Linked DNA regions of Homo sapiens: regions 1 and 3 are each linked to region 2. The links come from fine-mapping of genetic effects on gene expression. A gene starts in region 2. Each other region holds a variant in brackets. All regions are shown on one strand. Distances are between the middles of the regions. Region 1 overlaps SBF2 (SET binding factor 2). Region 2 holds the start of SBF2-AS1 (SBF2 antisense RNA 1). Region 3 holds the start of MIR4485 (microRNA 4485).

Evidence for each region.
Region 1: its variant is fine-mapped to the expression of SBF2-AS1 in whole blood (INTERVAL, PIP above 0.99).
Region 3: its variant is fine-mapped to the expression of SBF2-AS1 in lymphoblastoid cells (GTEx, PIP 0.99).

What each region holds. Positions count from the first base shown.
Region 1 is chr11:9,800,208-9,810,804 of GRCh38, forward strand. It overlaps SBF2 (SET binding factor 2), which reads right to left. Exons shown (of 40, transcript NM_030962.4): 31 at 8,694-8,795; 32 at 7,793-7,978. It overlaps SBF2-AS1 (SBF2 antisense RNA 1), which reads left to right. Exons shown (of 3, transcript NR_036485.1): 2 at 7,641-9,077; 3 at 10,053-10,597. Among named protein-coding and RNA genes, the nearest start is that of LINC02709, 46 kb to the left of the region's middle. The variant G/A (reference allele first, on the strand shown) is at 5,622.
Region 2 is chr11:9,752,488-9,763,084 of GRCh38, forward strand. It overlaps SBF2-AS1 (SBF2 antisense RNA 1), which reads left to right and starts at 5,806. Exons shown (of 3, transcript NR_036485.1): 1 at 5,806-6,016. It overlaps LINC02709 (long intergenic non-protein coding RNA 2709), which reads right to left and starts at 7,046. Exons shown (of 3, transcript NR_033972.1): 1 at 6,942-7,046; 2 at 5,280-5,356; 3 at 2,283-4,411. It overlaps SWAP70 (switching B cell complex subunit SWAP70), which reads left to right. Exons shown (of 12, transcript NM_015055.4): 12 at 1-506. RefSeq lists an enhancer at 4,085-4,144 and silencers at 5,616-6,015, 6,136-6,255.
Region 3 is chr11:10,504,493-10,515,089 of GRCh38, forward strand. AMPD3 (adenosine monophosphate deaminase 3) reads left to right here. Exons shown (of 15, transcript NM_001025389.2): 14 at 57-167; 15 at 1,216-3,087. The coding sequence ends at 1,392. RNF141 (ring finger protein 141) reads right to left here. Exons shown (of 6, transcript NM_016422.4): 6 at 7,181-10,574. The coding sequence ends at 10,424. It overlaps MIR4485 (microRNA 4485), which reads right to left and starts at 3,834; the gene lies at 3,778-3,834. It also overlaps the pseudogene MTRNR2L8. RefSeq lists a silencer at 4,630-4,924 and an enhancer at 6,487-7,397. The variant G/C (reference allele first, on the strand shown) is at 4,830.

The DNA of each region.
Region 1 (10,597 bases), 48 kb after region 2:
GCCTCAGGGAAGGAGCAAGATTCCATCCTAAAGGAAAAAAAAAAGGTTGTTTTCTTATTATTGAATTTTAAGGTTTCTTTATGTGTTCTAGATAAATCCTTCAGCAAATATATGGTTTACACATATTTTCTCCCACTGTGTGATTGGTCTTTTCATTTGCTTAACAGGGATTTTTAAAAAGTATTTATTTATTTATTTAAATTATTATTATTTTTTTGAGATGGAGTCTCGCTCTGTTGCCCAGGCTGGAGTGCAGTGGCGCAGTCTCGGCTCACTGCAAGCTCCACCTCCCGGGTTCATGCCATTCTCCTGCCTCAGCCTCCCGAGTAGCTGGGACTACAGGCGCCTGCCACCACGCCCAGCTAATTTTTTTGTATTTTTAGTAGAGAAGGGGTTTCACTGTGTTAGCCAGGATGGTCTCTATCTCCTGACCTCGTGATCTGCCTGTCTCGGCTTCCCAAAGTGCTGGGATTACAGGCGTGAGCCACCGTGCCTGGCCAAAAAAAGTATTTATTATGTTTTTTAGAGGTGGGGTCTTGCTGTGTTGCCCAGGCTGGTCTTGAACTCCTGGGCTCAAGTGAACCCACCTTGGCCTCCCAAAATGCTGGGATTATAGGCTTCAGCCACCATACCCAGGATCAGCCTTGTAATATTTGTAGAATCTGTAGTGACGTCATCTTTCTCATTTCTTATATTGGTAATATGTGTCTTTTTTTTCTCAAGCAGTCTAGCTAGAGGTTTATCAATTTTATTGATATTCTCAAAGAACAGCTTTTGGTTTCATTAGTTTTCTTTATTGTTGGCCACAAGATTTTGGGGACCTAAAGGCAAGTGTGCTTCAAATAAATTTAGCCTTATTATATTATGTAGAATTGGGAATGATAGGTATTTCAGCTAATAAATTAATTCTATGTCAGCATTTCCCTAAGTATGGTGATGAATAGAGTTTTAGGCTTCTCTCAGGTATCATCTGGATTTTGTTGTTCAAAATAATTTTGTATTTATTTTGTTGCAGGTTAAAAAGTATACAGACTTAAAAGACTAAACTGCATGAAGCATTTTAGTTTTGTTTTTCCGTTATGGAGTGAAACTTGCCAACTTCACTTATTTATAAGAAGAGAATCTGAAATGGAATTTGGAGAAACATGAATTTATAGGGTCTTTTTTTTTGCCCATGTGCCATTAAGTACTTTGTAAAATTTAAAGGCCTATAAAAATAAGCTATGACTCAAACCCCTGGAAAGATCAACATTTTGGAAGTAAAGTTTAATACATTAAAACTGGATTCTGCTTTCAGAATTATAAATATTGAGCTACAAGAGACACTATACATCAACACGTGAAAACCTGGATATGGTTAAACAGACCCTAGGAGAGTGTATAGCTAATATTAATTTTTGTTATTTCACAAATTAAGATTTAACAAACATTGTGTGCTTTGTGTTACATCCTTCCATATTACATGGCCTTAAATATTAAGCTTTGATGCAAAATTGCCTTGTTATAAAACAGATTGGATTATGTTCATTTTTGCCAGTTTGCAGTTGAATAGGCAGCAGACAGCAGAAACTCTTGAATATACCAACAATCCATTAGCTACAGCTATTTTGCCAATATTACTGGATAAATTTTAGAATAACCAACCTGTGTGGGGGCAGCTTAGCTGCTCACATATGTGCTCACAAGGAAGGCTCATATCTTCAAAAGGCAAATAGCTTTTTTCTTTGGGGTAGGACCTAGCATAGTGCTGTCATAAGGTAACCATGAGGAGAATCACATAAAGCCAGACCAAAGTGAATCAATTTACAATTTGAATAAACTTTGAAATCACAGTAAAAAATACTGAAAAAGTTCTAAGATGCCCTCAAAGATTTACTCTAATGCCGAAATAAAGGGGATGCTTTCTTCACGTTTTCATTCATACTATTCATGTTTTCTCCTGATATTATATTTTAAAAAGAAAGTTTACATAAAAATTTAATCTTTGTATATTGGATTTTTTTTAATTTGGCTCAACTATTTTAAGAAAAGGGAGTCCTGTAATGATATCATTTGAGCTAAGCCAATTTCTTTTAGAAGCAAAAAATCTGCCAGATGTTGCTATTATGAAACAGTGAGCTAGCATTTATAATTCATTTGACACCTGGATATACTGGCGTAAACAATGGCTTTTTATATGATGAGGCAGTTCTAATTTAAGTTCAGTGCTTCATCTGTTTTCTTGTAACTTTATTAGTACTAATGGACAAGCCTAGGCATATGTCCATGGACTGCCTTTTGGCATTCAATGTTAGAAATGGTTAATAAGCAGGGAACACATTCCATCTGGGAAAGCTTCACTTGCTGCTGTGTAATTTTGAACCTGTTTTTTTGATGTTTCTGGGCCTAGTTCTGTTGTGTGTCCCTGAGAGACTGAGGGCAGCACTAATTCGAATTATCTGGTAAAAGCCAGAGTCATGTAAAGCACTAGTGTTCACTTGAAAGGCATTCAAAGAAGGCATTTTCTAATGCCTAAAACCAGTATGTCGAAGATGATGAAACACTACCTTATAATTAAGTCAGCAAGAGTCAGAAAAACTATTTGCTAACTATAGTCTTCTTAGATTCCTCTGTTTTTGAGTGAATAAACAATCCCTTTTCAGCACAAAATAATTTGCATCACCAAAGCTGATACCTCTGGTAGCCAAGCATGCTTTACTTACTGCAATTAAGGTCATATGCTTGCTTTGCTATGACTTGTCTGCACTTAGGTTATTATGTATGAGGTATTAAGTGAAAGGAGGATTCAGGCAAATTCTTAAAAATTTATGTTTTAATTTAAAAAATTTTAATTTGGCACAGCCAGATTTGAAGTCATACTGATAGGGTCTCTAGATCCTGAACAATATTACTTTTTACAGTTTGTGAAGCATTCACCTACAAATAATCGAACTTTAATTAAAAGTTAACTTCTGTTTTTGATTTCAGAATCAACTGGTTTATATAAAACATTTGAATTTTAACTCTTTACTTGAAAAAAAAAACAGATGAATCTTAAATTCAGCTGATTAGTAAATAAAACAAAACAGCAGAAATTAAGCATATACCCCAAATTGTTTTAATTAACTTAGCCTTTTGTAGTTTTAGCATCTATTGTATTCTAAAGATAATAGGAATGTAAGTTATGCTACATCTTAGTGTATGTTAAATTGCTTTAATCATACCACTTAAGGGGTACTCACAGAATACAGGTTACCTTCCAGCATCTAGACCTCTCCCACTCCTCCCCCCCAGCCCCATCCCCAATAATAAAATAGAAGAATTTCATTCCAAGTAAGGATTATTGTACTTGGGAGACAATGATGTTCCCATCTTTGAGGACAGTGTATCTTACATGAGAACCTCCTATCTCTTACTGATTGTGAGTGGATTATTTCGCTGACCCTAATGTTTAGGTGTGCAGAATTCTGCAAGTTGAACATAGAGATTTAACATATTAAGTAGTCCATTTAACTTAAGCCAGATTTGGCTGTACAAGCTCATTCCCCTGGAATCCTCCCACATTAAAGGAATTTTTAAGAGGTAAAAAACCCAAAAGGGAGTGGGGAGAATGGGAGGAAACACAGCACTGGGCCAAAGCAATTCAGCAAATTTTTGAAAGATGGAAAATAGAAGGAAGAATAGCAGTAAATGATAGAAGAGGAGAAGCTATACTGGGATTCCTGCCAGGAGGAAAATGATTTGAGAAGGTAACGATTTGCTGTGTAAACCCAGAAAGGCTCAGGGCACAGAGGCCCAAGTATTGAGTAATGCAGGGGTGAAATGGAGGCTATCGTGGGACTAGCTGGAAGTCTATGGAGGCAGGAAAGGACCCCAGGTCCTTTCCCACCCCATGTAGTCATATGATTACCCTTTTCAGAGCAACAGATCGGAGGTTTATTTTCTGAAAAACAAACAAACAAAAAAACAAACCTGATAAGCTCTAGACTTGGGAACACCAGACACAACTGGGTTAGTGGAAACACTGAAAATAGCATGGAAAAAACGAAAAGCCTGCATTACTGAACTGGGATTTCCCTGGACCTATTTCCTGCCCTGTTTCCATAAAGCAAGCAGCCAGACCTACAAGTACTTTCTGGGCCCCAGACAAATTCTTCTCCGTAGAAACAAGGTAGCTGCTGTTTTCTTTCTCTGGAACTCTAGTTTACTGAGATGTTGGACTTACTAATTAAAGATTATTATTTTTTCCTCCAGATTTATTGAAGTGTTATTTAAAAATAAAATTTCCCTACTTTAAGTGTATAGTTTTATTAGTTTTGGTCACTGTACACAGTTGTGTAACCATCACCACAATCATGATACAGAACAGTTTCCTGACGCTGAAAAGTTTGCTTATGCCCTTTGCATGATGATTGATCCCCTCCCTTGGTCACTGGTCCCAGGCAGTCACTGATCTGCTTTCAGTCACTATGGTTTTGCCCTTTTTAGAATGTCATATAAATAAACTTATGTAGTAGTCTTTTCTGCCTGGCTTCTTTCACTGAACATAGTGATCACAAGATTGGTCAGTCTTTGTAATATAAATATTTCATTCCCTTTGTGTGCTGAGTGGTATTCCACTGAATTAATATGCCAGAATTTGTTCATCTCTTCATCGGTTGATGGACATTTGGTTTGTTTTTCATGCTACCCCTTTATAGTCACACTCATTTCCTTCTCCCCCACTATCTTGAATCTGGCAACCAATAATTTATGATCTTGTCATTTTAAAATATTAGCTGGGCATGGTGGCTCACGCCTGTAATCCCAGTACTTTGGAAGGCCAAGGCAGATAGATCACCTGAGCTCAGGAGTTCAAGACTAGCCTGGACAACATGGCAAAACCCTGTCTCTACCAAAAATACAAAAAATTAACCAGCTGTGGTGGTGTGCACCTATGGTCCCAGCTACTTGGGAGGCCAAGGTGGGAAGACTGCGTGAGCCTGGGAGGCGGAGGTTGTAGTGAGCCGAGATCACACCACTACACTCCAACCTAGGTGACAGAGTGAGACTCTGTCTCAAAAAAAAAAAAAAATTATATACATGGAATCATACTCAGTTGGACCCTTTGAGATTGCCTTTTTTTTCTTTCAATATAATGTCCTTGAGATCCCTTCAAGGTGTTGCATGTGCCAGTAATTCCTTTTTACTGTTGAGTAGTCGTCCACGGTATGGATGTATCCCAGATTGTGTAGCCATTCACCTACTGTAGGACAGACATTTGGGTTCCCCCCAGTTATATTCAAATCGGATATGTGGAAGGGTAATTCTTTAGGAAATGTGGAGCCACTGAAGGTTTTTGTTTGTTTGCTTTGAAGACTTTTGTGGAGGGGAATAAAAGGATTGTATCTGAGCTTTTGGAAGATTATGCCAGCAATTCTACTTAGGATATTCTAGATTTTTTTTTTTTCCCCCAAGACGGAGCCTCGCTCTGTCTCCCAGGCTGCAGTGCAGTGGGGGCTTCTCAGCTCAATGCAACCTCCGCCTCCCGGGTTCAAGCGATTCTCCTGCTTCAGCCTCCCAAGTAGCTGGGACTACAGGCGTGCGCCCCCACGTCTGGCTGATTTTTTGTATTTTTAGTAGAGATGGGGTTTCACCATGTT[G/A]GCCAGGATGGTTTTGATCTCTTACCTCGTGATCCACCCACCTTGGCCTCCCAAAGTGCTGGGATTACAGGCGTGAGCCACCACGCCCGACCAGGATATTCTAGATGGTCTTGATGAAGGGTGGTAAGAGCATGAACAAGACTTGTGGTCTTTCAAATTCTCATATATTCATTGAGATTATCTATTTATTGTCTATTATATTCCAGAGACTGAAACTGTAATTGTGTTAGATACTAGGGATATGAAGACTAGTATGACATAGTCCCTGTTCCCAAGAATTCTCAGACTAAGTAGAGGGCAATAGTTACATACAAATAAACATACTTTAGTGCTATAGATGTTATCAAAGAAGTCTATACCTGACTCATTAGAAATACATATAAAGTGGGAGCGTGAGGGTCAGCAAAAGATTCAAAGAATTATGAACTAAAATAACATGTGTAGTGCTCAGAACAGTGCCTGGCACATAGTAAGCAGTCGACACAAATTAGTAATTATTGTTAGTAATGGTGGTATACGGAGGCAGGAAATAGTCTAGTCCAATTGATAAGCATAATAAAAAAGCAAGATAAGAAGTGCTTTCATGAAGAACTCATATGCTTTCACCTGCCTAGAAGTGAGAAGAGATAGATGCTTGCTCCTCTCCTTTGGCCTCAGGTAAGCTTTCTGTTTCAGAGACAATGGTCTCCAAACTTCTCCCTCATCTATTTGCCAAAAGGAGTATGAATAAAAGGGCCAATATTCAAACAGAAAACAAATATAGTATACTCTTTGCTGCAAAGAGTTTAAAGGTACATGCTTAACCTTGTGACCAGCTCCTCCAGTTACTGCTTGGACAGATCAATTGAAATTCGTCAATCGGTCTTGTCTTTAATAAGTAAATTAGAGCAGTAAAAAACATAGCTTCCTGTGTGTGGGGTGAAAGGTTGGAAAGTCACTGCTCATGAGTATGGAGTTTCTTTTTGGAGTGATAAAATGCTCTAAAATTGATTGTGGTAATTGTTACAAAACTTTGTGAATGGATTCAAAACCACTGAACACTTTAAATAGGTGAATTGTATGATATATATAGTTCAATAAAGCTGTTATTTACAAAAATTATGTAGTGATCTGGAAAGTTGATCAAGTGATTACTAGAATAAAAACAAAATAAAACATAACCACATACTAACTTGGTGTCATCACAGTTAGTTTCAACTCTGGTTCCTGAAAACATAGTTCTGCCTTTCTTTCCAATCGATATTTGAGGCCAGTGTGTTTCAAAGAGGCTCACCATTCCCACAAATGTTTGACATGCCAGAACCCATTCATCCAACCCTGGGATTGTGGTCAAATGAAAGCTGGAAATAGGCCTGCTTTTCCTAGGCCAATTCAGTCTTCAACTTGCAAGCTCAGTGCCATCCAATTCTCAAACCCAATCCTGACCAAGGCCCCATCCAGAGGTCTGTATCTGATGTGCCTGCGATGAAGGCAGGAGGGAGCCTAGAGCAGTCACATCTCCCCTACCCTCACTGCATTTGAATGGATATACCTGGGCTCCCACTTATAAGTGAGAACATGAGGTATTTGGTTTTCTGCTTCTGCATCAATTTGCTTAGGATAATGGCCTCCAGCTATATCCATGTCATTGCAAAAGACATGATTTCATTCTTTTGTATGGCTGCATAGTATTCCATGGTATATATGTACCACAGTTTCTCCATGTGGTAGAAGTGACCAGTGTTCTCAAGCCTGTATGCCTGTCTGGCTGGGCCCTGATTATTTCTCCAGGGGTTAGGCTTTACCTCTTATGTTCCCAGGCACAAGCTGGGGTCCTCCCAAACTGGGCAGACCATGTGCTCGATTTCAGGACCCGTATTACCTAGAGATTTTGTTCTTAGGTAATAAGCCCAAGTTTGCTTCTCTTCTTTGAAGATGGTCATTTAGAGTGCTGGCTACTTCACTTGGGGCAAGCCCAACAGCCAGCTTAGCTGTCCTAGTTTCAGAAACCAACTAATTTTTTTTCTTTTCCATTCCTAGGAGTCTACTGCTAAGATTTCAGCATGTCCTGTGGCTGAGTTAATCAGAGTTATGACAGGAAGGTACCGGGCACACCATCGCAATGCTCCATCAATGCTAGTATGTTGTGTTCTTTCCTTCATATCAAGTCAACTCAAGCTTGCTCTACTTACCTGGTGTACACAGTCTAAGAACTGTAAGAAGACTGGAGCAAAACCACTCCCCTGACAGTTGAGGGTCAAGCTGCTCCTCTGACTGAATTTGTGACCAAAAGAGAGCCACTCTTTTTCAACCAACATCTGGAAGCCTTCAAGTGTCCTATAAAAGGGATCACTGAGTAACTGAACCAGGGATGTCACCTAGGGCATAAGCAGGATGGATTGTCATTAATTTTAGTTCTGAAAAAGGCCTATTACTAAGATAAAAGCACTTCCTTCTGATGATAGCTAATTCACAAATTTACCTGGACAGCAAATTTGTTCACTAACCATTCCAGGATGGCCAATAAAATTAATTTTGTAAACTTGCCAGTAAAAACTAAAGCTCAAATTCATTTTGGCTACAAGTTTACTTTCAGGGAATTGAGACTTTAATCCTTAACTGGCCAGTTTGCTGACAGCAACCTTTTCCTAAGTTAATCAGAGGCCAGAGGATCAGTTAAAATCAATTCTACTTTTTGGCAGATGCAGATTAATGTCTTAATGTAGTCTGAACTCACACTTTTCACTCTGGAGTGAGTTAAGGCGGGGCTTATAGAGAGCCAGGGGATGGACTGACAAAACCCAGGAAGGATGGTCCACGCCTCACACTGCTGGTCAAGGGCTCCATCCGCAAGCCTGCATGGTACATCTGTGGATGGGAGAGCTTGATGCCCGGAGCCAGAGCTCCAGGCTGCGTAGGGGCTAAGAGCTCATGGTACGGAGTTTTCTGATGGATACCAGGTGCTGTTTAACACAGGACTTTCTCTGTCCATAAACACATTAGTCATTATACAAAAGAGTCATCTGAAGAATTTAAAAATGACCAAATGGAAATATAAATATAAAATATCAAAAAATATGTCTAATAGTTTACTTGTGCAGTGATGTCCCAGCCTTCCTCCAAACAGACCAAAACTGAGGAACCATTCTCAAGTACTTCTGATACAACCACAGCCAGCTGCATTATCCTGTGAAGCTAAGAGACAGGAAGGAGAACACAATTAGACCAAGCGCTTTCTGAGTGCAGAAGTCAGAGAGAGTTGCTTTCAACCCTGGATAATCAAACGACTTAGGGATAAAGCGCTTGCACAAAAGAACCACATAATGTTTTAAATACCTAAAGTTCTTTCAAATCAAGATTAAACAATGACACTTTTGACTGGATGCAATGACTCATGCCCATAATCCCAGCACTTTGGGAGGCCGAGCCGGGCAGGTCATTTGAGGTTCGGAGTTCGAGACCAGCCTGGGCAACATAGTAAGACCCCATCTCAATGAAAACAACAACAAAATGACACTTCAAAAAAGTAGACACATTTTAAAACAATACATTCTAGTAATACATAATGAAATAAAATTACCTTACATGATTCCCCCAAAAGTAGGTGAGCTATAATTCCATAGAGTACAAAAAACAGAGATTCTATGTGGACTTCCCAACAAAAGACGGAAATTCAGATGAATTTTATTGGATTTAAAATTTGTTTTTCCATGATGTAGTAAGTTTTGTTTCAGACATTTTTTTTTTTTTTTTTTGAGACAAAGTCTCGCTCTGTCACCCAGGCTGGAGTGCAGTGATGCAATCCTGGCTAACCACAACCTCTGCCCCCCGGGTTCAAGCGATTCTCCTGCCTCAGCCTCCCGAGTAGCTTGGATTACAGGTGCATACCAGTGCACCCGGCTAATTTTTTGTATTTTTAGTAGAGACGAGGTTTCACCATGTTGGCCAGGCTAGTCTTGAACTCCTGACCTCAGGTAATCCACCTGCCTCAGCCTCCCAAAGTGCTAGCATTACAGGCGTGAACCACCACGCCTGGCCTATTTCAGGTATTCTTAATTTTTTGGGAATTAGATAGTGGTGATAGTTACACAATGTTGTGGACATACCAAAAAGCGTTGAGTTGTGCACCTTTATCATAAGGATAAATTTTATGGTAAGTGAATTATATGTTAAAAAAGAAACTCCTGGCTGGGTGTGGTGGCTCAACGCCTGTAATCCCAGCACTTTGGGAGGTTGAAGCAGGAGTAGTGCTTGAGCTCAGGAGTTTGAGACCACCTGGGCAACATGGCAAAACCCCATCTCTACAAAACATACAAAAACCAGCCAGGCGTGGTGGCATCTGCCTGTAATCCCAGCTACTCAGGAGGCTGAGGTAGGAGGATCGCTTGAACCTGGGAGATCGAGGCTGCAGTGAGCTGTGATTGTGCCACTGCACTCTAGCCTGGGTGACAGAGCAAGACCCTGTCTCGAAAAATAAAAATAAAAAAGATACTCCTATTTGTCTATACTGTGTACTAAATGAGAAAAAAACTTTCAATATATTTGTGCTAAGTTTTTAAAGCCACATCAATTGGCTCAAAGTCCTTAATAAACAATTAAGGTATGAGAATAGTATATAGATTTTAAAACCAGATGTATAACATTGTAATTTTAAAAAATATTTTAATGATCATCAGACATAATTTGCAATTTGAATCCAACTCTGAACAAGAACAAAAATGAAAAAACCCATCTCTTAAACAGAGCTAGGCTACTTTAAACACAGGAATAAGGCAAATGCCCTACTCAGTAATGAGAAGCTCCTCATGTAACTGTTTCTACAACATAGCTATCACCAGGCCTGAATTCTTTTGGGCTCAGAATTTGTTCTAAGAAATGGCTATTATTAAAAAGTCAAAAAATAACAGATGCTGGCGAGCCTGTGGAGAAAAGGGAATGTATATACATTTCTGGTGGGAATGTAAATTAGTTCAGCCATTGTAGAAAGTAGTTTGGTG
Region 2 (10,597 bases):
TCCTTTTAAACAGTGCTTTGGCTAAGATAGATACTTGTGAATCAAAGATAGCACAGAAATGAACTAAGTATATCCCATTTGGAATTATATTTTGATACTATTTAAAATGGTTTCACCTGTTAAAGGGCCAACAGAACTCTTGGTTTTACTTTTGTAATTACTGTACAGAAAATTTCAAGAGTGTTTGAGTGCTTGTCATCAGGTGTTTTCCTTAATAAGTAGGGATATGATCATTTACAGGAATTATATATGAAAAAAGTTTTTGAAATGTATTTTTGTGATGTGCTATGTTGAGGGGAAACCAAATATTTATGATTTTAAAACATTCGTATGAAAACATTGTACAATGTAATATGCTCAACTTTCTCAATTTTTTGCTAATTTTTCTAAGATACATTAAAAATGTTTTATATTTTTTTTTAAGTAAAATGGACCCAGTAAGAAAATTAAAAATACCAGAACATACACTTTAAACTGTCTGATTTAATAAAACAGTGGGGGGTAAAGTTGGGTGTATCTATGTGTATTTTCATATAATGAGATGGACTTTGGTTTAGGGACATTTCCTGAAAACACTGGGTTTGGAGTTTAGACCCCAAGAAGTTAGCTGTGGCCTCATGTTTGGTGTTTGAGTCACGAATGTGGGGAAGCCATGGCTGATGTGTCAGCTCACAAACGGGAACTTACAAAGATGATTTCTCATTCATTGTTGCTGTTACCTTCAAATTTTCTTACCTCTGTTTTCCTTAGTTTTCTTTTTATGCCTTTCAGTTTTTCTTTCACCAGAGTAAACCGTGTGGCTTTTTGTTTGTTTGTTGTGGTTTGCATTGTTGCCAAGATAAAATGCCTGTTGTGGACTAAGTGGGCCCACTCAGGCCAGCTTGATTGTATATTGGAAAGCTGATCTTTCCCTCTTGGAGGGAGGGAGAGGACACTGGTTGGTGTGTTTAAAAACTGTTCTTTCTGAGGCGGGCAGATCATGAGGTCAGGAGATCGAGACCATCCTGGCTAACACGGTGAAACGCCGTCTCCACTAAAAATACAAAAAAATTAGCCAGGCGTGGTGGCGGGCGCCTGTAGTCCCAGCTACTCGGGAGGCTGAGGCAGGAGAATGGCGTGAACCCGGGAGGCGGAGCTTGCAGTGAGCCAAGATCATGCCACTGCACTCCAGCCTGGGCGACAGAGGGAGACTCCGTCTCAAAAAAACAAAAACAAAAAACTGTTCTTTCTCTATCACAGTGGTTCTCAACTGGTGGTAATTTTGCCCTCCAGGGGACATTTGGCAACGTCTGGAGACATTTTTTGTTGTCACAACTGGAGGGAGTGTTGCTGGCATCGAGTAGGTAGAGGCCAGGGATGCTGCAAAACATCTTAAAATGCCCAGGACAGCCCCCATTAACAATTATGTGGACTAAAATGTCAGTAGTGGCAAGGTTGAGAAAACCTGCTCTACAGAAAGGCAAGTTCTATTATCCAGAACACAATATAACCCTTGGAGTCAGGGTTTCCCTTTCAGATGTCCTAGGAGTTGACTGACCTCTTCAGTGCAAATGAGGAGCACCTGGAAGGGAGAATGCCTGTTTCTCTGTGAGCTGGCAGAGAGCAGAGGGCAGGGACCTCTGACACACCCAGAGCCTCTGGAGGGGGTTGCTTTGGATATATTTTAAAAGACTATGATGCAAGTTGCTGAGGCATGAAGTGTAAAAGCTGCCTTAACCCTGATTTCTTTCCAGGTGGTGAAACACAGGGTGGGTCTGTCAGCACCATTTAGCAGCTTGTGAGGAATGAATTTTCAGATTTGCCACTCAGGTAGTGATGTGTCCCGCACAGCGCTTGTGCTTGTTCTAACTGGCCAAGCTTTAATTGCAACCTTCTGGGTAGTTCCAGCAAGGCACAGCTGCCCTAGTGGGGTGAGGATCAGGTGAATAAGATCAAGACATATGAAAGCGTGGGAAGAGGCACTCCTCAGCTTTTACAGTGCAGAGGAGGTGCTCCAGATTTGTTAAAGGATCAGTTTTGGGAATAGTTTATGGAATCTCTATTTCTTTCCTCTCTTTCCCCCTCTACTCCTTTTTTATATATTAGAGACTGTAATAATCACCTCCCTACTTCCTACTTGGCAATATCCACTAAAGCTAAAAACAACAGCTACCCTCCGGCCCAGCAGTTTCCACTCATTTCAGAGAAATGAGGCTGATGTCCACCAAAAAACTTGTATAAGAAGATTCACAACAGTTTTATTATAATGGCCCCAAACCAGAGACACTCAAATATCCACCAGTAGAGAATAGACAATTGTATTTCCAGACAATGGATACTACACCTAAATTAACATATTACAGAGAGAGGCAACCCGGCTGAATCTCACGGACATCTTGAGCAAAGAAGCCAAACACAAAAGAGCACATACTATATGATTCCTTGTATATTAATTTCCAAGACACACTGCTAATCGGTGGATTTAGAAGTGAGGGTGGGAGGCGGGTGGCTGTAAACTGGGAAGGGACACACTTGAACTTTCTGGGATGCTGTCAATGGGTGGTGGTTACACAGGAAAAAACAGCTTCACACCCAGGATTTGTGCAGTTTACCGTCTGTAACTGCAGTGCCTCTAGAAGCCTGAACTGGCTCACCTTTAAATTTTTTTTTTTTTTTTAAGAAGTCTCGCTGTGATGCCCAGGCTTGAGTGCAGTGGTGTGATCTCAGCTCACTGCAGCCTCTGCCTCCCAGGTTCAAGGGATTCTCCTGCCTCAGCCTCCCAAGTAGCTGGGACGACAGGCGTGTGCAGCACAGCCGGCTAATTTTCGTATTTTTAGTAGAGGTTTCACCATGTTGGCCAGGCTGGTCTCAAACACCTGACCTCAATGATATGCCCTCCTCAGCCTCCCTAAGTGCTGGGATTACAGGCCTGAGCCACTGCACCTGACCTCACCTTTCAATTTCAGATAAGGAACTAGAAGGTGACACGTGAAATCTGTACCGGACTTCTAGGATGCTGTTCATTACACCACCCACCTCCTCTCGGGTCCTGATTACATTTTTATGTCAAACATTTAATTTCTCAGTGCCCCATCACCCAGCTAGTGGCCATGTGCCACCCCTACATACAGAGGAGGGCCCTGACCCTTTCTAGTCCTGTGCTCAGCTTCCATTGAGTCTTCTGAGGCTGCCGAGTCTTTGGCCCTGGGTAGTGGATACATCTGTGGTGGACACTAAATTCCAAGCAGGGCTACACTCAGCCTCCTTTTCCTGTTCCCACCACACACAGGCAGTCCATGGTCTCTTAGGATTGTGCACCCACAGGAATGCAGGCCTTTGTGTTTATATCCCCCTCAACAGTTCACAAGGGCCAGCTGAGGTCCAGCAGGACTTCAGGAGTGGGTAGACGAAAGCTCTGTCTAGCAAACCCCATTCTGTTCAGTCCCCAAGACCCGCAGCCCACTGCCCCCTCCTCCTCCTCATCGGAAGTCCTCGTTTCCTGTCCCATTTCACCCTGCCTCTCCCCCCTCCGACAACACTTTCTGCTTGGACCAGCAGCCCATGGGGGTTTCAGGGAGCAGTCTCCCTGCCCCACTTTCTGCATTTTCCCTCTGCTCTCAGGTTCCCTTTTCTTCCTGATGCATGGGACCAGGACGATCCTGAGCAGCTCCCCTGGGAAGACTGTTCCCCCCACAGGCTGGTTTCAGGGGATACCAGGACTGCTGCACCTCCACACTCATGTTTTCCACTCCCCTCAAAGTCCAGGCTGATAGGAGAGCAGCGTTACTGTCCAACTCTGCCAAACGTGTGTCTCCATTCCCATTTGGAGGGTGTGTCTGGAATCCTTGTTTACAAGGTGTAGAGGTGGAAGAGTTCATCCCAGAGCCCCATGGCCCTGTACACCTCACTGCAGTTAGCTGGAAGATGGTTAAAGCAGTGAGTGACTTTTTTTCTAGAGCTGTTGCCCTCCCAGCCTGGGCTACAAACAATCAGTGCTTGAATCTTCCTGCCTACCCCCACCCCAATCAGGCCTTTAGGGCACTAAGTTGGAAAGGAGCCTGGACTTCAGAGTCAAACAGGCCTGGGCTCTACTGTGGTTTTACCTTACTGTGTCATCTTGGGTGGGTTAGGATACTGTACAGGTGATGTGTCCTCAGGGTGTCACACCTGAGGCACCTGGTGTTTTGTCTTCATGCATGTTCTTTAGAAAGTCACGTGGAGGGGGTTTTCCATCTGGGCTGGGCCAGGCCACTTAATGGGCCTGTCGCTGGTGGGCTGGCCGGTTCTGAGAAGATCTGGCAGGTGACTGCGGTTGGTCAGCCATTCAAGGCTACTACTGGAGAGTCCGGGAAATACCTCAGGTGCTCTCTGCATTTCCACAGGCAAGTCTGTAACTTCTGAGGTGTCCTGCAAAGGCAGGTAGCTGGCAAATCTGTGAATGGATGAGTGCACAGAGGAGGTCCCAGGTGAGGGTGACAGCCCAGCAACACACTTCCCCAGTCACACCTGCTCTTTGGAAGGTTCCAGCAAGGCTGTGGAGAGGACCCAAGGGCCTGTGACTGCCACCTCCCAGTAGACCCCAAGGACCTCCAGCCTCTGCTCTCCCCTCAAGGGTCCTGTCGCTCCCTTGGTGGCCATTAGCTGTGGTGGCCAGAGCTGTTCTCCACTCTACCTCCCAGGGCCTCTATCAGCAGCTGACGGTTCCTGCGGCTTGTAATGTTCCTGCTGATCTGCCTCACTCACTACCCGTCACCGCTGATGAACTTTCCCAAAAGTCAGCCCAGAACTCCTTAAGGGAAGGGGCAGCCTCGTTGTGGTAGTTCCAGCACCCTGTACCAAGCAGGTTCTTAGTAAATGCTGACTGTTGAGTGGCCCCTTTCTGAAATAAATTCCTTGTTCTCAAATATATCCTGGATCTGGTCCCCTTGGGTCCAATCAGCGCTTGAACCAGACAGCAATGACTGACCACCTCTACTCAAGAGTTTCTGGTTTATTTGGAGCCTCTACCCCACCCAACCCTAAGGCTGGGAACCCTTTTGCCTTCCTTTTTTCTTAAAGGAAGTTAATCCCAGCACATGTGAAAGATGGACCATCCATCCCAATGCCTCATGTCCTGGGCTTCATTTCTCCATTTCTCCCAGGGCACCCTGGGAGTCTACATGCAAACAGAGATACTAGAAAGTTAACTTCCGGAAACCCCCTTGATAGGCCAATTCGTCCCCTTTTCTCTCTCTCCATGTGATTTTTTTTTTTCAAAAAATATCTTTTGTAGTTTTTTTTTCCTTATCACCAATACATACCCAATGTGGAAAACTGAGAAAAAGCAGGTTTGTAAAAAGAATAAAATGCTTCGCCATAATCTCACTCTGCAGACAACCTACAATGGCAAAAATCGCAATTAATTTTGCACCAACCTAATACTAGGATTTCAGTGCACAGCCTTCCAGGCCTACATTTAGGTTTGTTTGAAACAGGAACATGCGGTTCAACCGCCAACCTGAGCCCGCGTCCCCTAAGGCCAATACCACCATCCTGACCCTCCTTGGGAGGTCCTGAAATGACCCCAGTTCCAGGGGCAACGAAATGCATACGCTTTCGAGGGAAGGAGGGGAGGAAACGACCCTGTGGCGCAGGTCTGCACGGCCAAGGGGGTTCCCTGAGCTGGTGGAGCGGCGTGGCGTGGCCTAGGAAGTCCCTGGGCGAGGGAGGCGGGGCGCGGCGTGGTGGGGGCGACTGGGTGGTGCAGGCCTGCGCACGCGCGCAGCCGTGGGCGGGACGGGCGGCCTGGGGGCTTCGCCGCCAGGTGGCAGGCGTGCGCCACGCCCGCAGGTTCCAGCCCCGACCCGGGCGCGCGGGGCCGACTAGGGTCGGGTCCAGTGTGCGGTGGTCGCTCCGCTCCGGGCCGCTCCGCTCTGGGCGTCAGGGCGCGGGGAGCTGCCCCGGGGTTCTGTCCACCGGGGAGGAAAGCCACGAGCACTGAGCGCCTCCTGAGAGCCAGCCCTGACGTGAACTCATTTTATCTGCCACGACCCAGAAGGTGGGCGCAATTTTCCTATGTTCCAGGTGTGAAAAGTGAGGCTCAGGGAGCTAGGCAGTTGCCCAAGGGGACACAGCAGTGACGGCTCTGGGACGAAGCCCAGGTGTCCAGACGCGATGGCCTCTTCCCGCGTTCTCGGCGGGTACGGCGCGCCGCCTGCCTGCGGCCCGCGGGGAGGTGGTCGGGTGGCCGCCCCGGCTCCTCCTCGGGCCCCTGAGGATTTCCGGCCGGGACCCCGAGGAGGGCCCTGTGGCCTTGCGGCATCCGTGGTCACGATTCCAGCCCCACACGGCCTCCCGCCAGTCCCTGCGAGTGCCCAAGACGGGGCCGCCCCTCCCGTCTCCTCCCTTCTCTCCCCTCCCCGGCGTCTCCCGCCGAGGGCGCTGCAGGCGGCCTGGTTGGGATGAGGGCGGGCAGGCGGCCCACAAGCAGGGGCCTGTTTCCTGACTCGTTTGACCCTGGCTGTCCCTGCGGAGGCCCCAGCAGACCCAGCAAGGTCATCTAGGGCGAAATTCCAGTCTGAGCCCTGAGCAGTGACTTAAGTTTTCCCGATAAGGCTCAAGAAGGGACACAGATTGTCCTCCCCACACCCCGCACTCTGTCAGCACCTCCACTCTGGTGAAGCCTCTGCTGCAGACAGCCCGGCTCGAGAAGAGACAAAGATAGACTTGGGACAGATAAGGACAGAGACAGCCAGGGAGAGAGGGGCAAGGAGCTCAGAGGTGAAGATGGGGCCGCGCCGATGGGGAGGCAGCGGGTCTGCGGCCGCCGAGATGGGAAGTGGGCCCTGGAGCGGGCTTGCCGAGCCTACGACCGGGGCTGGGATGTTGGAGGAAGACGCGGTCATGAGGGCTGAAAAAGAAGGGGTTTTTGGTATGGTAGAAAAATGGATTGGGCTGGCAGCTCGAAGGCCACAGCCCTGTACCTCTGGGCCTGGTCTCGTGTGTGCACCTGGGACCGGTGGGTGAGGGGTGATGTAGAGTCAATGAGGGACGAGCTCGCTGAGTCTCCAGGAGGCAGGAGTGGAGAGGGCGAGGGAGGGAGGGTAGGACCTGTATACCTACGGTGGAGGGGGCAGGCGGGGGACAGATGCTGCTGGGCCAAGACTACTGAGTCTCTCCTGCCTGCTGGAGGTCCCTAGCTCAGGACTTATTCCATGCACACTCTGATAGAATATTTACGCCCAACACTAACTGTTTGGCTTGGCAAATAAGCAAAGCCATAAAGTCACAGCTGGCCTGTAGGCTCCCAGTCACCATGTGCAGCTGAGTCACAACCACTTCCCCCACCCCCTGGGGAGCAAGCGCCTATGCTCATGCCTGCACTCAGACACATATCCACACAGATACCCACAGATGCCGCGTGCCACTGAGTCATAGCTACCTCCTCAGAGAGCACGTGCCTGCATGTACTTGCACACAGGTCCCCACAGATGCCATATACACCTGAGTGTGAGTCATCATCACCACTGAACCCTGAGGGAGGGCACCCAGAGTGTGTTCTGCCATCCTTGCTTAGAGATACCCATATACACACATATACAGATATGTGCCCACCACACATCCTGTTGTACCTGCTGCATCATACCAGCAGATCAATAAATGTTTGTGGAATGAATGAATGAGTAAACAAATGAATGAACTAACAAGTGAAAACGTGAGTGACAACCACACTGCGTGGATACTCAGTAAAATTGGTTGGGGCAGCCCTGCGGGGTGGGTCCCAAGCTCTGTGTCCAGAAGGAGTTGTCTTGCTCCAAATATATCCTCTGTGGGCGGGCAGGGAGCCAGGGCTGCCTCCCAGACCCTGACTTCACTGGGCCGGAGGCCCAACCTCTGAGGAGTTGAAGAAAATTAACAAAGAAGAGGCCCTGGCTTTCTGTAGCCAAGGCTGAGCTGTGAGATGAGTTGGTGGGGGCATGTGTACTCTGGAAATACCACTTACTCAGAGACCTGAGATGCAGGACAGAGTGCTCTGCTGAAGGGCCCAGAGAGGACTGGTTCTGGATTGGGCTTCTTGGGAACTCTGCCCCAAATGTGCAGAATGTGCAGGAGGCCTGGTTCCACTTGAGATCTGGGGCAAATACAGTGCTTGGGCTGAGCTGGTGATTGCAAAACTGAGGCCCCCTATTAGACAGTTTTCCATCTAGGCCTGCCCTTCTGGCTTGGGCTTGTTCCCAGAGCTGCTTTCCTGTCTCTCCCTTGAATCTTCTTTTCTGAAGCCCCTGTGTCTCTGCCCTAATTCATCATCTGGAATATTTTAATATTACCCCAACTGGTCTTCCCGCCTTTAGACAGTAAGACCTATCTATCTTGCTTATAGCTGTCAGAGTTATTTTTCTAAAATACAGGTCCAACTATATAACTTTCCTGTTCAAAATCCTTCCATAGCTTCCCACTTTTCAGCATTAAAGTTGGATGGCCTCAGCCCTGTGATGAGATCCTTCATGACCTTACTCCCCTCTACCTGGAGGTTATGAAAGGGTAACATGTGGATGGATAGTTGTTGGTTATATGGATCGATGGGTGATGGGTGGACTCTAGGATAATGGATGCTTATAGGGATGAATGGACTAGTGGACTGATCTGTAGACAGATGATTAGAAGTATAAATGATCAGTCAGGCACGTTGGCTCATGCCTGTAATCCCAGCACTTTGGGAGGCCGAGGCAGGCTGATCACCTGAGGTCAGGAGTTTGAGACCAGCCTGACCAACATGGTGAAACCCCGTCTCTACTAAAAATACAAAATTAGCCAGGTGTGGTGGTGCATGCCTGTAATCCCACTTACTTAGGAGGCTGAGGCAGGAGAATCGCTTGAACCCAGGAGACAGAGGTTGCAGTGAGCTGAGATTGCACTATTGTACTCCAGCCTGGGCAACAAGAGTGAAACTGTCTCAAAAAAAAAAAAAAAAAAAAAAAAAGAAGTATAAATGATTAGGAGGGCATGTAGGGTTGGAGAGATGGGTGGATGGATGGTTGGAAGGATACTGCTCAAGTCAAGGTTGTTTTTGTTGCAAGGAACAAAGAAAACTCCAAATGTTTTCAAGAATGAGGAGTACAATTGTGAGAATACAGTGGACAACCTTGCAGAGAGCACTGACATTCAGGCCTCATGAAGATTGGAACTGGAAAGTCAGGAACGGTGGCTCTTCTCTCCGTCTCCCGAGGACCTCAAGGTTCCTCTCTTTCTCACATTTCTCTGTACTCATTCCTGTCTCAGCAGGCTCCCTCTGCTCGATTTTCTTGCTCATGGTCTACTCTCAGCCACTCTTACTCATTCCTTCTACAAGTTTTTACCAAGTGCTTATTTATGTGACTGTTTGTACCTCAACAAAGCTCCTACGTGTTGAAAAATAGCAAGCAAAACAAAGTTGCTGCATTTATGAAGCATACTTTCTAATGAGGAGAGAGAGACAGTAGGCAGTTACATGTGTGCTGACGTTAAATGCTATGGAAAAAATAAAGCAGGGAGCAGTTTGGGGAGGGGTTGGGTTTCTGCTGCATATAGGATACTCAGAGGGGGTGTCCCTGATATGGTCATATTTGAGCAGAGATCTGAAGAAATTGAGGGGGTGAGCCGTGAAGATATCTGGGGGAAGAATGCTCTAGGAAGAGGGCGTGGCAAGTGCAGTGGTCCTGAGGTGGGAACTGTGTGGCACTGTGTGAGGAACATCAGTGAGGCTGGTGTGGCTGATGTTGTGTGAACATGGGGAGGATGGTGGAAGATGAGGTCAGACGGGTAGCAGAGGACAGATCATGAATTGTGTTACAAGCCATTGTGAGGACTTAGACTTTTACTCCAAGAAGGAGGGGAGGCATTAGAGGATATTCAACAGAGAAATGACATGATCTTAGATTTTAAAAAGGACCTCTCTGGCTGCCGTGATGAGAATAGACTGAAAGGGACAAGGTGGGAAAGGGAGACAGACAGGGAGACCACTTAGGAGGCAACTGCAGAAATCCAGGTGAGAGATGTTGGTGGCTTGGACCAGGGTGGCAGTGGTGAGGGCAGTGATAAGTGGTCCAGTTTAGGACGTATTTTGAAGGTAATCAGGATTTGCTGATGGATGGGATATGGGTGCGACCTCCCTCTGGTGAGGTGGCCCTGCTCAAATCAGCTGTGGACAAGGAGGATACGTGGTATAGTGTGGCTGTCTAGCTCCACCCTCCAGCAGAGGCAGCTTGACATTTGTCTTGGATAATGAGGGCTAAATGCAGGGTTGAGAGTCACGCCCAGCAGCAAAGCTGTTTCTGTCTGAACTGTAAGGTCACTCTAAATCCCACTCTTTCAAGGCAGGTATATTCAGCAGGCTTAATTGAAAACTGGAACATAGCTTACCATTGTTAGGATAGAACTGGAGCTTGAAGTGACCTGACTTCTCAGTGAGACCAAACATTCACACTCTCCAAGGAAGAAAATGAAGGAAGAGAATGTTTATGACTGGCTAAGTCTGTCACCATCCAGTACAGAGAACCTCATTTGGGCAGAGTTTTATGGCAAGCTATTGAAGTTATATATGTACGCATATGTCTGACAGATCTATATCTATAGAATATATCATATATGTGTGTAATACATA
Region 3 (10,597 bases), 750 kb after region 2:
AACGATTGACATGGATATCCCCCCTTCTAATCCACATGCTTTGGGGGAGGATCTAGGAAGCACTTATGGAAGAATATGCCATTGCAGCTCAAGTGTGGAAGCTGAGCACCTGCGACCTGTGTGAGATCGCCAGGAACAGCGTGCTGCAGAGCGGCCTCTCGCATCAGGTATGGAGTGTGACGGTGCTGCCTGTGTCCCTCCTGGGAAGGCTGCCTGCTGTGTGCCAGGAGCCTTCCAGGCACTGGGGATCTGTGATGAACATAGCAGGCAGGGCCTCTGAGACACTCAGGCACAGGGAGAGAAGACGCGGCAGCCTCCTGTGTTTTCATGGCTGCTTCCTCACCCTTCTCAGACCTCTACGCCTCCTTGGAGAGGCCTTCCCTGATCGCCCATTCTAAAATAGCCACACACTTGCTATTATTCTCTATCCCCTTAATCAGTTTTTCTCCATACCATTTATTCCTGCTGATGTTTAGTTATGTGTTTTTCTGTCTTTCCCTCTAGCATGTAAGCTCTGTGAGGGCAGAGGTTTGTTCAGAATTATATCCCCGGGCCCTAGATAGTCCCTGGCACATAGCAGGCGCTCAATATTTCTTGAATAGATGAACAGTATCTAGACTGAATAAAAATCTAGACTATGGGACTCAGACATCTGTCATTTTTTAAAAAGCCTGATGAGGAGCTGGCACTGAGACCCATGTTCTGATGTACGTTAGGTCCCCCGACACCTCCCTGGGTGATGTCACTGGTTGGGAAGAGGTTGCATTAGGGGCTGTGCTCGTCGGATGATGATGCAGCAGAGTTAAAGGCTTAAGATTCTTTTCATGCGCAGTGTGGTGCCTTGGATTGGCCCTCCCCAGGAACATTGTCCTTGTCAGCTCTCAGGGGCTTCTTAATTAGAGTCTTACCTCCTTCCCCTTTGCCTTTCCCATCCCCAGCAGCTGCTGCAGACCTTATCTTTCCTCTCTGATCAAGGAAAGCACAGCCAGGAATGAAGGGCTGTCTGAGGATGACTGAGGTTGTCAGGGTGACATCCTTGAGGACACAGAGGCCAGCAGGAATTTTAAGAGTTCTGTGGGGATAAGATGTCCTGACCAAAGATCTGCTTCAGGGGGACTAGTCTGACTTGCTGTGACTGATGTCAAAGCTGCCCACATGGCTATAGAAAGTGAATCAAAAGTATATAGTTTCATTTGTATTTCTCTTGGTCCACAGGAAAAGCAAAAGTTTCTGGGACAAAATTATTATAAAGAAGGACCTGAAGGAAATGATATTCGAAAGACAAATGTGGCTCAGATCCGGATGGCATTCCGATATGAGACCTTATGCAATGAGCTCAGCTTCCTGTCTGATGCTATGAAATCAGAAGAGATCACCGCCTTGACCAACTAGGTCCAGCATTTGACATGCATTTTAACTTTTTGGTTCAATTTCAAGTCTGCTGTGGCTAATAGTGGTCAAGATTCCGAACTAGGACTTTCCTCTGTGAAGAGGATGCCTCTGAAGAAATTTTAAACTGGTGATTTTGGTTGCACTGCTCACTTTAAGAGTTAACATGCTCACTTGTTAGTATTTCTGAGTAACAAGATGGTGACTTCTCCTTGGGGATCTGGGAGCTGAGCACTTGTCTATACTTGTTCCTAATTTTCCAAGTATTTCTCTTGAAACTGCCAGTGCCTGAACTGTTGGGGCCAGGATTTTCCCTGGTCAGATGCCAAGTAACATGTGGTTTTCTGCCATACTTTTCTCCATTGGCCCAGGTAGGCTAATTGGTAGTTGTTCATTTCAGCCTCTGGATGGCTGGCTGCCTTAAACACAATCAATTTCAAAGCTCCATTTCATAAAGGGGCTACTTTGAAGGAGTTAAGATGGAAGACTTCCTTCTTGACAAATTGTGTTTTTAGTGAATTTCTTAAACCGTTTTATTTAGCCCTCCTTCCCTCTTTCTAGTTGGAAGCCAAATGTACTCATGAAAACAGCCACTCCTATTCTGAGTCTTGGTTTCTTCACCTAGAAAGTGAGGGTTTGGACTAGATGAGTGGCTTTCAGGGTGTTCTGTGAATCTCCTCATGAATACTTTAGGGTAGGGGAGGGAAGGGAGTGAGTGATGCTCAGGGGCTGTCAAAGTGACTGCGTTCATCAGTTTTACACTGGGGCTGCTACATAATATTTTCATTTGAACGAAGAACTTCAAAAAGCACAGGACTAGATGATCTCTGTTCCTTTTGGCTCTAATATGCTACAACTGTAGGCCAATTATCACTTTACCAATTAAGAGTTAGGCCAGATAAGTGAAATTTAACTTAAGGGCACACAGCTAATAAGTAATAGGCCTAAACTGGATTTCCTTATTCCAAATCCTGTCTTTTCCCCACTATTCCATTAGACCCCACAAATGTTAGTTGTGTGTGTGTGTGTGTGTGTTTTTAATCACTGTAACCGGATGCATTTTTTTAAGGCAAAATTTCTCCCTTATCTACTATGATGACTTCAGAAGATACAATGGTCCCAGGGGCCAAGTAGAAAGCATTTTTAAAGATTAATCTGAATTAAGCTTTATCAGTGTACTCTTTATCTGTGTTACTAGTGCCTGGTATGTAGTAGGTGCTCAATAAATGCATATTGAATAACTAAGTGAATTTCTTTTGGCAACTTTTTAAGGACATGTGCTCTTAGTACTTAAGAGGCTGCTCAAGGACCTTCCTATCTATTTCTGTGGTCAAATTCAGACTACAGGAGGTCTTTTTGAATCATTATAGTTAGAAGAAGAATCCAGTTTCTGCCTGTGAACTTATTTGACTTTAGATTGTCTCATCTTGTGACTTTATAATGCCTGTCCCCTCCACTGGTCAATTCAGCATATGGAAGTATAAATGCAGTCTTTTTACTAGGCAGATATATATGCTATCTTACAGCTAATTATGAAATTGAATGAAAATCCATTGTTATCTTAGGGATTAGTTTTGAAAAGCCCCCGTTTATATACATTTGCCCTAACATAGGAAGTATTGTGTAGTTTCTCATTGTCATTTTATCTGTATCAAGTATCTTTTTTTAAATTGTTAAATAAAGTCAGCTAGGACTGTGGCTCAATAGTTTAAAACTATTTAAAGATAATCATATTTAAAGCAAATGTTAAAGATTTTTACTCTTAAGATTGGGCACCATGAAAAGCTATCAATAATAATAGCTAATTTATCTTTTACTAAGACTCCGACATGAATGACATTCACTAGGAAAACTCAAAATTTTCAAACTGAAGCTCACCAGACCCAGAAGATAAATCTTCCTTTGTTATTTTCTCTAACTTCTACCCTGTTATAGTTCATGAGCAAAGCTATACATGTTCCTTTCCTTTTCCCGGGGTATTATTTTAGTCTGTCCAGCTAACACCTTGTTGATATGGACTCTAGAATAGGATTGCGCTGTTATCCCTAGGGTAACTTGTTCCGTTGGTCAAGTTATTGGATCAATTAAACGTGGTAATTCGCTTTGACTGGTGAAGTCTCGGCATGTGTTGCTCGGAGGTCGGATTGTGCTCCGAGGTCGCCCCAACCGAAATTTTTCACGCAGGTTTGATAGTTTAGGGCCTGTGGACTTGTTAAGTGTTGTTTGCGTTAATGAATTAAAGCTCCATAGGGTCTTCTCGTCTTGTTATACTATGCCCGCCTCTTCACGGGCAGGTCAATTTCACTGGTTGAAAGTAAGAGACAGCTGAACCCTCGTGGAGCCATTCATACAAGTCCCTATTTAAGGAACAAGTGATTATGCTACCTTTGCACAGTTAGGGTACCGCGGCCGTTAAACGCATGTCACTGGGCAGGCGGTGCCTCTAATACTGAGAATGCTAGAGGTGATGTTTTTGGTAAACAGGCGGGGTAAGATTTGCCGAGTTCCTTTTACTTTTTTTAACCTTTCCTTGTGGGCATGCCTGTGTTGGGTTAACAGTGGGGGTAATAATGGCTTGTTGGTTGGTTATAGATATTGGGCTGTTAATTGTCAGTTTAATATTTTGGTCTGATGTAGGCTTATGCGGAGGAGAATGTTTTCATGTTACTTATACTAACATTAGCTCTTCTATAGGGTAATAGATTGGTCCAATTGGGTGCAAGGAGTTCAGTTATGTGTTTGGGATTTTTTAGATGACAGGTGTCGAGCTTGAACGCTTTCTTAATTGGTGGCTGCTTTTAGGCCTACTGTGGGTATTAAATTTTTTACTCTCTTTACAAGGTTTTTTCCTAGTGTCCAAAGAGCTGTTCCTCTTTGGACTAACAGTTAAATTTACAGGGGGATTTGGAGGGTTCTGTGGGTAAATTTAAAGTTGAACTAAGATTCTGTCTTGGACAACCAGCTATCACCAGACTCGGTAGGTTTGTCGCCTCTACCTACGAATCTTCCCACTATTTTGCTACATAGACGGGTGTGCTCTTTTAGCTGTTCTTAGGTAGCTCGTCTGGTTTCGGGGGTCTTAGCTTTGGTTCTCTTTGCAAAGTTATTTCTAGTTAATTCATTATGCAGAAGGTACAGGGATTAGTCCTTGCTGTATTATGCTTGGTTGCAATTTTTCATCTTTCCCTTGCGGTACTATATCTATTGCGCCGATTTACAATTTCTATCGCCTATACTTTATTTGGGTAAATGATTTGGTTAAAGCTGTTCGGTAGTAAGGTGGAATGGGTTTGGGGCTAGGTTTGGCTCAGAGCGGTCAAGTTGAGTTGAAATCTCCTAAGTGTAAGTTGGGTGCTTTGTGTTAAGCTACACTCTGGTTCGTCCAAGTGCACTTTCCAGTACACTTACCATGTTACGACTTATCTCCTCTATATAAATGC[G/C]TAGGGGTTTTAGTTAAGTGTCCTTTGAAGTATACTTGAGGAGGGTGACGGGCGGTGTGTACGCGCTTCAGGGCCCTGTTCAACTAAGCACTCTACTCTTAGTTTACTGCTAAATCCACCTTCGACCCTTAAATTTCATCAGGGTTATCGTAGTTTTCTGAAGTAGAAAATGTAGCCCATTTCTTGCCACCTCATGGGCTACACCTTGACCTAACGTCTTTACGTGGGTACTTGCGCTTACTTTGCGGCCTTCGTCAGGGTTTGCTGAAGGTGGCGGTATATAGGCTGAGCAAGAGGTGGTGAGGTTGATCGGGGTTTATCGATTACAGAACAGGCTCCTCTAGAGGGATATGAAGCACCGCCAGGTCCTTTGAGTTTTAAGCTGTGGCTCGTAGTGTTCTGGCGAGCAGTTTTGTTAATTTAACTGTTGAAGTTTAGGGCTAAGCATAGTGGGGTATCTAATCCCAGTTTGGGTCTTAGTTATTCTGTGTTCAGATGCATTAAAGCCACTTTCGTAGTTTATTTTGTATCAACTGGAGTTTTTTACAACTCACATGAATTTTAGCTTTATTGAGGGGAATTGATCTAAAACACTCTTTATGCCGGTTTCTATTGACTTGGGTTAATCGTGTGACCGCGGTGGCTGGCACGAAATTGACCAACCCTGGGGTTAGTATGGCTTAGTTAAACTTTGGTTTATTGCTAAAGGTTTATCACTGCTGTCTCCCGTGGAGGTGTGGCTAGGCTAAGCGTTTTGAGCTGCGTTGCTGCGTGCTTGATACCTGTTCCTTTTGATCGTGGTGATTTAGAGGGTGACTCACTGGGGCGGGGATGCTTGCATGTGTAATCCTACTAAGAGCTAATAGAAAGGCTAGGACCAAACCTATTTGTTTATGGGGTGATATGAGCCCGTCGAAACATTTTCAGTGTATTGCTTTGGGGAAGTAAGCTACATAAACTGTATGGGGTGTCTTTGGGGTTTGGTTGGCTCGGGGTATGGGGCTAGCAGCGGTGTCCTGCAAGCTTTTCTGACATCTTTTCTATAGCACTTTGTGCTTTTATTACATTGCTATACTTAATTGGCCTTTTGGGGGACAAATCCCTACTTTCCTTTGTGTTTGCAACTGGAATAAGAGGCAATTAATTGTATACTGGCTTAGGTTTCTAAAGCAACAGTTTTTGAGGCAGTTATCCCTTCTTTATCCTTAAGGGCTCAAGTTCACTTTATGTGTTACTTCAAATTGTACCGCTGAAACCGATCGACATCATTGCTCTTTGCCTCGTGAAAACAAATCACAGCTCCTGGGTTGTGATTTTTCACGGCCTCTTGGATTAAACAAGAGCCGAAAGCACTTTTCTCTTGCTTTCTCTTTACTTCTGAGTGTTGGTGAAACAATATTCTTCATTTCCTGCGTTTGAGACATGACTGAAGGTGATATACCCAAATACTCTGCCTGAACTATGATCATTATAAAGAACAAGTGTAACTAGGGGAATACTAACCAGATAAACAGTTCCTTGGAAATTTTTGCAATTAGTAAGATAGAAGATGACAGAGAGTAAGACTATAAACAGCTGCAAGCGTGTCAAAACCTATCTCTGCAAAGGCTTTTATGTATTTTGACAGTAAAATGTGCATTTCTCCACAGTATGATGATACAGTCAATTTAACTACCAACTGCCACTCATTCTTATGTCCTTGCACTTTTCAGCACTAAGATTCTACGATGTTTCTCTAATTACATTCTTATATTTTGGAAATGATTTTACAAGGTAAACAAACTACAATAGGGTTGAGCATTTTATTTTTGCTGTCTGTTGGGGTAGGGGTCCACAACCCCTGGGCTGTGGACAGTACTGGTCTGCTGCCTGTTAGGAACCAGGCCGCACAGCAGGAGTTGAGCCGCGGGCGAGTGAGTATTATTGCCTGAGCTCCACCTCCTGTCAGATCAGCAGCGGTATTAGATTCTCAAGGAGCATGAACTCTACTGTGAACTGCGCATACGAGGGATCTAGGTTGCATGCACCTTATGAGAATCTAACTAATGCCTGATGATCTGAGGTGGAAAAATTTCATCCCGAAACTATTCCCACCCCAACCCTGGTCTGTGGAAAAATGGTCTTCCATGAATGCAGTCCCTGGTGCCAAAAAGGTTGAGGACTGCTACAGCAGGGTGAATAGACATACGAACAAATGAGTCTGTTGTCAGCTGCTTAGGTTTGTATTGTATCGTCATTGTGTGGCCCAGCATGAATGTGAGTGACCTGTTAACTTCCCTCATCTGCAAGTAGTTTTCTTATTCCCGGATAGACTAAGCTTGACTTCAGACAATAGCAGTTAAAAATGCAAATTCTTCAGACTACCTTTTAATAAACTCAACTTCCCAATGTTAAAAATCACTGAATCAAAAGATATTTTCAAGCAGCCTTTTCTCCCAGATATATATTAGATATAAGGAAATCGAGTCCAATTTGAAATGAATTTTAAAACAGCACACAAACATCACAAGCCCCCAGCGCACAATATAAAATAGTTCTCTAAGGAATATAAACATTTAGTATATTAGAATGTGAAATTACATAGGAAAATAATCTCTTCAATTAGCTAAAATCACTTGCGAAAGATTATTTATTGCACAATTTATCAGTGGGTACTAAGAATAACACAGATCCTATTATTCTCAACCTCTAAATTCAGTACATAGTAAAATTCATTTTCTCAAACTAAGGTTCTATACATAATCGGAGTAAACCCTCTGTTACTGAGTTAGGATAGGGAAAACAAATTCCTTAGAGTTCATGAAACCACTTCACAAATCCTAGAAGGCACACATTATATTTCCTATCATAGTAAGTACATTTAAGTACTTCATATTTAAAAAAGACAAAGCTGTACAGAATACAAAAAGTGTACATTTCATCCATTAAACAAATTTACAACTTTTACGATTAGTTATTACAGTAGAACTGACCTAACATTCACATCTAAATAATTATCACCCAGTTCAATAGAGCGAACAAAGAGCTGTGCTCATTTATTTATTTGATAAGGCTAATAACATTTTATATTCACAGTAGATCAGTAAGTGTCTTGGAGCTCATATTGTAAAATAAAAAGGTTTGGGCCCTATTGAGTCACTGGGCTCATTGTTAAATAACTCCTTGAAAGGTGAAGGATTCTGGGGGATAAAATCATTGGCTATCCCTGGAAAGATCCAAAACTCTGTAAGGTAACTCTGTTCACTTTTCAGAAACATTTTAAAATTAGGTAATCTGAATTAAACTCAGCAAGTCTAATCTAAAAGGACAATTTAAAATCTTAGAGCTGGAAAAGATTTCAGTGGATCATCTATCCCAAGGTTTTCAAAATATGTTCCATGGAATACTAAGAATCTATGGAGGAGATACAGGGTTCTGCAAATTTGACTTGAATTTAATTAAAAAATTTTTTTAAAAAAAACGACTCCCACTATATGTGTGTTACTCACCAAATTCAAACATGCTGGATATCACCAATGCATTAATGTTTTTATTCATTGACTTAATCACATTTATAGTATATAAAGTTTATATAATAAGGAAATTTATAATAATATGACTTTTATATAGTGGGGTATAGGGTATGTGTGTATGCACACGTGTTTAAAGGTTCTGTAAGATTTTCCTTGAAAAAGTTTTTGCTGCTGAAATAGTGTGAAAACCACAAATAAAGTCTCAGTTTCTAAAGTAAGAACACATAAACAAGAGTAAGAGACTTTCTCAAGGTCACACAACCACCAAGTGCATTGCCAGGTTGATATGATGGAACCCCTGGTACTCTGCTTGCATAAACCTCCATAGGGAGTAGTTAGCTATTTGGTACTTAGCTGTCCCATTATGAATGTCAATGGATTAGTCTTCAGTATTTTTGGGGGCGAAATCAAGCTACCCCTGGCCAGATGTTTTTCCTTGAAATTGATTTGAATTTTATTTGCTCGCCTATTAAAATCCTACTATCCAGAAATTCTGTCATCAATAAGTGGCAACTTAAATTGTGTACCCTGGTTTAGGAAAATAGTAATATTTGCAACTTATGAATGATAAGTCAGAAAAGTTACATGGAATGTTAAATTTTAAAGGAGATAGGCCCTTGTTTTATTACATGCCGAAATGTTAATGTTAGAAATTTTAGTTCATAAGCAAAAAAAATGGTTGAGGTGCAACTGAAGATCACAATTCCATTATTACTATATTGTTTCAGAATATTTTAATGGAAAGAGTATTTCAATGGAAGTACAGTGAAACAGTAGGAATGCCAAATTATCTTCTAATTTTCATAAGTATTTTATGTATATACGGTAAAAAAGCCTCACTCTATTTTCTTGTGTTTTTTTTTTGATTAGGAGTCTCGTTCTGTCTCCCAGGCTGGAGTGCAGTGGTGTGATCTCGGCTCACTGCAACCTCCACCTCCTGGGTTCAAGCAATTCTGCCTCAGCCTCCCGAGTAGCTGAGATTACAGGCACCTGCCACCATGCCCAGCTAATTTTTGTATTTTAGTAGAGAGAGGATTTCGCCATGTTGGCCAGGCTGGTCTCAAACTCCTAACCTCAAATGATCCACCCACCTCGGCCTCCCAAAGTGCTGGGATTACAGGTGTGAACCACTGCACTGGCCTCTTGTCTCTTAATCTAAGAAATTTGAGGACTCTGAAATCTCAGAAAGATGTTTTCAAGTTAAGGAAATAAAAGCACCATAAACCAATATTAAATGACCTATAGTAATTTAGAAATATAAAATTTAGTATTTGTGATGCAGAATAATTTCCTTCTGAAACTCCAAGATGTGTGAGCATTATCAAAGCCATTTAGAACAGTTACCCAGCTGTGGGAAAGCATTTCCAGAACAGCCAAGAAAATTCCCCAGGAGAAATCCATTTGCAAAGGAAAGTCACACCCAATTTTGTAGACCTCACCCAAATTATACAGTATGGCAAAAACAAACAAACAAACCTTTAAGTACAGTAGTTCCAAAACACACTGCTAAAGTTATGAAATAATTGTGGATCATTTCAAGTAAAAATTATTAAAGGAGCAATAATTAACCACAAGGGGGCATATATATATATACTCCTTAGATTCCAGCAGAAAGACTAGTTTTAAGTAGTAACATGCACGTTGAAGTATTCTACATTTTCAGTCACTTAAACTTTCCTCTCTCAGATGGCTACAACTTTTTAATATTCGAGGTTTATTTTATATCTAAGTAAAAAGATTCCAGAATACTCCTGCCCTGCAAAACAGTAGTGTTTTAGAAGCCTCTGGAAGTGTTGCTGTTACCTTTAGCAAAGAATTCAAGAGCTATTAGTTGTAATAATACAAATTTGAACAGATAAATAATAGGAAAATATGGTCTAAAACAGTAGCAAATTTTAGTACCACAAATGGAAGACATGGGAAGTTTATTTTTAAAAGGGGGACAAATGATCAGAATAGCAAAAATAAAAGAGTGGGGAAAATGGATTTTCCTGTGTCTGTGCCAGTGCCACAACCCTACATTCTTCCCCCATGACCAAATATTTGAGCCCACAATAGCAACAGAAGACTTTCACTTCAAGGTCATGGCCTGTGGGGCTGGCCTGCCTCATCAGCCATGTTAAGAATATAGTTAGCCATATCATCTTCAGTGGGTGCATCTGATACCACCCAAGATTCATTTGCTCCAGTCATCTGTAGGCGACAAATAGGGCAATTCCTGTGTCGATCACTCCTATTAGAGAAGTCAAAACAAAA